Linked DNA regions of Homo sapiens: region 1 is linked to region 2. The links come from fine-mapping of genetic effects on gene expression. A gene starts in region 2. The other region holds a variant in brackets. All regions are shown on one strand. Distances are from middle to middle.

Region 1 (2,897 bases), 96 kb before region 2:
ACTCGAGTCATTCCTGGTGCGAGTGATCAAAACCGCTCTCTCCCCAGGGGAACTGGGCACAGGTCCCCAAGGTCCTGGGAAACACAGGTGTTCTCTGGCCCCTGGGAAGGAGAGCGCCTGGACTCCATCCAGGGGCAGCCAAGGTCCCATTTCCATGGATCCCAGATGAAAGGAGAGGTCGGCACTTCCAACACCAAGAATGAAGGCATCTCTCCCTCACTCACTTACACAACTTTTACTGAGCCCAGCCCTGGTTTAGTTTGTTACAAACCACCCACACCATCAACAAGGCATAACTGATGCATATTTTTAAAGGACAAATTTTGGGTGCCAACCAATTCTTAGCAATAGAAAAATTTCACAGCAGGAGGCTCTAGCTCTATGAACTTGATCCTTGCAGCTTCCTCTTTTTATGGGCACACAGGTACACCAGGAAACACTCGATGGACTGCTGCACTACCCTGGTTTCAACTGGAATTTTGTTACAGTGAGTACACCATGATTTCAGTCAGGGTGACTGAACTTTATAAAGGGACAGATAGTACTTTTGCCTTTGTGGGACACACGAAGCCTGAAAGCCACAGACGATGCAGATGGGAATGGGTGTGGCTGAGTTCCAACAAAACGCCATTGACAGGAATAGCGGGCCTGGCGGCCAGAGTCTGGGAACTTGCTTCAAGAGATATTCTTGTCCAGCCATGGTGGCTCACCCCTATAATACCAGCATTTTGGTAGGCTGAGGTGGGAGGATAGCTTGAGCTCAATGAGTTCCACACCGGCCTGGGCAACACAATCAAACCTTGTCTCTACTACAGACAAAAAAAAAAAAAAATTAGCTGGGTGTGGTGGCACCTGCTTGTAGTCCCAGCTACTTGGGAGGCTGAGGTGGGAGGACTGCTTGAGCCCAGGAGTTCGAGGCTGCAGTGAGCTGTGATCACACCACTGCACTCCCGCCTAGGAGACAGAGCGAGACCTTTTCTCAAAAAAGGGGCGGGGGAAAATACTCTTATAAAGTACAAAGAAATACAATTTAGGCTTTTTTGCTGCATGTTTATTCCATCCTGCTTCCTTCCCAACATGCCCCAAAACTCGAGGGGAAGCCTTCTGCACATGGCATCTGGACAATGGGCCCATCCTCCTTCCCTCTCCCACATTAACAGCCACAGGCTCTGGCTTTGGGGCTGCCTGGGAGGAATCCCTCAGGACCCCATCCAATGCACACTGTCCATCAACTCCTCCTCTTCTGGAGGTTAAAGTGGGTCTTCTCCCAATCCACAGAGAGTCCCTTCACACCACACCAGTCTTTCCCGCCCCAATGCGCCCCATGCACTTGCTAGCTTCCTTATTTCTGTTAGTTTTCAAGTCTCTTTGGGTTTATTCCGGCCCCCACTCCACTCCCAAAACAACCACCCTCCCTTGCTTTGCATCCCACAGCAACTCCTTCCCTTTCTCATAGAAACTTCTCTACAGAGCCCGACACGCCTATTTCCCTACCTCCCGCAACTTGACCAAAACGCCCCTGCTACAGCCATCACCGACGGCTCCAGGTCACCACACCCCAC[G/A]GCTTCGTTCTTATGGTGGATCCAGGACCAGTTGTGACAGCTCACTCTGGCCCCTTAGGAAGTTCTCCCTGGGCCTGAGGCCACCGTGGGCTGCTTCTGCTCCCATGGCTGATGGCCACTGCCCACGGCTATCTCCAGCTGACTCCCCTTCCTTCCCCACCATAACAGAGACCATGTGCCGAGTGCTGACAGTATCCCGAGAATTGGGAATAGTCTCTTGCATCAAAAGGGCGCTGCTGAATGACTTTTCTGATTCTTAAAAAGCTGGGTTCCCTTTCAAAGGCCTCTACCACTGCCAGACGCTGCCCCTCCTCTTTGCCTGACGGGAGCCCACCGACCACGCAGTGTTTCTGGCCAGTCTACAGAGGATGCACAGCGAGGGTTTCATGTCCCCTGCTTCGCCTCTGACGCATCAGGGGGCTGAAAGAAAACCCTACCCTTGAATCATGCCACTGCCACCATTTTTTGTACATGGGACCCCTGAAGGAGCACAAGGCTTAAATGTGAATGTGCACATTTCTCCTTTCATAAATACTCATGACTCCCCCTACGGCTTATTGAATATGTATATTTGGCCACCAATATCCATAAATTCTTGTTGCCTTTGCCCCTCCCTTGAAGTGTCTGTTTTTGGCTTCTGGCAGGAGGCTCTGCTTCCCAACCTGTCAGAATAGCCACCCACAGGCTGCAACCCTTTATGAGGAATGAGGCTCTCCTTTCCAAATGAACAAACCTTGTCATTCTTCAGCTGACACCATCACGGACAGAGGCTCTGGTGGGAGAGAAGTGGCCAGGACAGAGGGGTGCTCTGAGTGCAGCCACAGCCATGCTGCTGGGAAGGGGCAGGCAGAGGTACGGGGATGCCTCACACACGGACTCTATCAAAAACAGGCACAAAAAGAATGGAAAGAGGAAATGGAACCACAGAACAGAAGCATGGTATGGCCACGTGAGAATGCCTCCCGCTTGGATTCTTAGCCCAGCCCAAGGCCTGCATTCATTCATTCATTCATTCATCATTCATTCATTCATCCATCATTCATTCATTCAATCACTTATCCATCTAGTACCTCAGTGATTCTTATGTGCCGGGGCCCTTCCTCTCATGGGACCTATGTTCAGTTAGAGTAATAATGAGAAACAAGTGCACAAGAACATAAACAAACTTGTTTCTTTTCTTCTCTTCCTTTATTTTCAAGACAGGGTTTCACTCTGTTGTCCAGGCTGGAGTGCAGTGCTGCGATCATAGCTCAGTGTAGCCTCGACCTCCTGGGCTCAAGTGATCCTCCCACCTCAGCCTCCCAAGTAGCTGGGACTACAGGTGCACACCAACAC
Region 2 (2,897 bases):
ACAGTAGAATGTTCCCCAGCGCCTTAAAGTACAGCCGCTGTCCATCCACGGATGTCAAAACGCTCTGCAAACCACCCATTAATTTTTATGGTGGCTTGAGAAGCAGATTGAGAATCATTACCTTCATTTTTACAAGGCAAGGAACCAAAACCACAGAGGGCGGTGAGGATCCAGGCCTCTCCCATCATTTCATCTGGGCCACGGATCTCAAGGAAAGCCCCCAGCCCACTGGGAAGGGGACTCGTGGCCAGCAGAGATTCTGCCCGGGTAGGGAGCAAGGAAAAAACCCAAACTTTGGAGCTCAGAGACGGTCACAAGGGTGAGAAGGGGCGGCTGCATTCAGGGATTCTCTGGTTTAGGCAAGAATGGCTCCAGTTCTAACTTAATGTTCAAATCTGCCAGGCTGTGACAAGGCTGGTAAAAAATGTGGGATTGGGGATGGTTTCCTGTTTGCTGTTTATATTTCTCTTTATCTCTAGCTTTCTGTCCTGAGCATACATTGTTTCTGTAATCAGAACAAAAGTTATGCGAACTTTATTATTATCACGGATAAATTCTATAGTTCCAATCTGCCTACTAACTTGGAAAGAATAAGCAGGAATACAATCTCGCACAGTGTTCTTTTTCAGATCTCATCGATCCATCAGGCTCCACGACCCTCTGCTCGCTGAGTCCGGCGGCTCTCCCGCGGCTCCTCCCGCGCGGCATCTCTGGGCGCCCGACACCCGGTCAGGGCCAGCTGGGCCTGTCCCCAACCCCCGTCTACACCGCAGGCCCCGGGCTAGGAGCCGCGGGACCCAGGGTTGGGGTCCCAACTGACACCCGCCCGTGCCGCGGAGCGGGCTTCTCGGTAAACATCGCTCAGAGAACAACGCGCCTCTATCCCAGCCGGTCCCCGCCCGCGGGCCGCCGGCGCTGTCACCTCGCGGCTGCTCGGTCACCCGATCGCCAAGCCAGAAACCGGAGTTTTCAATTTCATCCTCACAGGAGGGATCTCCGAAGAAGTTGAAATATGCATTGTCACCAACAAGTTTAACCGGAGACCGCGCGTCCTTCCCTCCTCCCCAGCGCCGCTCGAGGGGGGCGCCCCGACCCCTCCACGCCCTCCCGTGGCCCCCACGGCCCCCGTGAGCCGAGCGCGCCCCCCGATTTGCGCCCGAGGACGCGTCCGGTTGCCCAGGGAGGCCACCCCGCAGGGCCGCCCGCCGGGAAGTGGCCAGAGCCGGGGTTGGGGGGCGGCCCGAGCGCACGCGGAGGGCTGCGGCTCGGCGCCCGGAACCCCGGGCCGGGTCCCTGCCCACCAGCACCAGGGAGACCCGAGCGCCCGGGGGAGCGGCGAGGGGCGCGCGAGGCTTCCCCGAAGCCGCCCCACGCCCAGGCACCCGCGCAGCCCCGAACTCAGGCGGCGGTGGCACGATCGGCGCCCGCGGCACGATCTGCGCCCGCAAGGGAGTGCAAAGCCCCCGAGCACGACCCCGCGCCCCCGCCGGCCCCCAGGGCCCTGCCGCCCGAGGCGCTCCCCGCCGCCGCCTGCCTACCTGGCTCGCATGGCGTCCCCGCCGGCTCCTGAGGCTCCGCTCGTCGGCCAGCGGCTCGGCCCAGCCGGGGGCGCGCGCGGCTCCGCGGGACTCACGGCGGCGGCGGCGGCGGTAGTGGCGAGGGGCCCGGACCGCCGAGAGTGCCGGGCGCGCTGGGCCCCCGCCTCGGCGGGCGGAGGGTGGTCCCGCGCCTGGGCGGGGGCGGGGGCGGGGGCGGGGGCGGGGGCGCGGGGGGCGGGGCCAGGACCGGAGCTGAGGCCGCGGAGGGGGTGGTCCCGCGCCGGGGCGGGGCTTCGGGAGAGGGGCGGGGCGGGGCGCGGCCGTCTGAGGCTGGCGAGCGTGGGGCGGGCTGGGGGTGGTGCCGCGGCTCCGGGTCCAGGCGGGTATCCAGTCTGGGCGCCTCCTCTTCTTCCTCCGCCCGGAGCCGGCCAGGGTAGCGGGGCCTTGGCCGCCCGGCATCCTCGGGTCTGGGTCCCCGGTACCGAGCAGGTCTGGGTGCTGGCCCGCGCTCCTGTGCCCCCCCGCACCCCCATCTCCCACCCCTTCTCCGGGAACCCCTAGCGAGGACCCCTGGGGCGGTGCGGTCCCCCCGCGAGCGGGCGTGGGCGAGGGTCGCGCCGCGTTCGGAGACGCTTTACTACACCTTGGCTGAGGACAGTGGAGGGAAGGCAGGCGCGAGGCTGCGGGGGCCGGAGCGAAAGTTACAAACTAACAACAGGGAAGGCAGTCCGGCTGAAAATCATAAAAGGAGGAGAGTTTCCTGCGAAGCGGAATGCAGATTGAAGGGCTCTGGTCGGAATCGTTTACACTTTGTCTGACCTGGGCGCCTCTGGGCCCCCGGCGCGTAAAACAGGCCTGGCACGTAGTAGGCGCTCCATCAATGCCCAGTGAGTGAACGCACCACTTAACTATGTGGCCAGCAACGTCTATGGACCGACACATCTAATCCTAAAAAAAAAAAAAAATCCCAATTTTGGCTAGTCCATTTCACACGAGTAAACTAGAGCTCGGAGGGTTGGTTCGCCACAGAGGAGAAGGGTAGAACCAGAATCTGAACCGAGGCCGACTCCAGAGGCTGGGGTCTAACCACTGCGCCACTGCCTGGGGCCCTCGGGACTGCGCCCACCCCCACCCCGGGAACCCGGAGCCCAGGAGAAAGCGCGGGTCTTTGCCGGGGAAGAAGCCAACATTTGTTGCTCCTGGTCCTGAGCGAGACACACACAGTCAGTCCTCACCATTAACCCCGAGGCAGATATTGTTATTGTCCCCGTTTTTATAGGTGGCTTGAGACGTGCAGCACTATGTTATGATCGCATGGGGCGTGCCAGAGTCTGAATTCAAACCGGGTATGTTCAGACT

What was found. PIP is the estimated chance that this variant, and not a neighbour inherited with it, causes the effect.
Region 1: its variant is the best candidate, but not a certain one, in a credible set for the expression of SH3BP4 in whole blood (INTERVAL, PIP 0.58).

What each region holds. Positions count from the first base shown.
Region 1 is chr2:235,046,433-235,049,329 of GRCh38, reverse strand. The region is part of intron 4 of SH3BP4 (SH3 domain binding protein 4); the gene reads right to left. Among named protein-coding and RNA genes, the nearest start is that of SH3BP4, 96 kb to the right of the region's middle. The variant G/A (reference allele first, on the strand shown) is at 1,563.
Region 2 is chr2:234,950,812-234,953,708 of GRCh38, reverse strand. SH3BP4 (SH3 domain binding protein 4) reads right to left here and starts at 1,692. Exons shown (of 6, transcript NM_014521.3): 1 at 1,539-1,692. LOC105373938 (a long non-coding RNA gene) reads right to left here. Exons shown (of 7, transcript XR_007088132.1): 6 at 2,358-2,897; 7 at 1,910-2,270. RefSeq lists an enhancer at 590-1,239.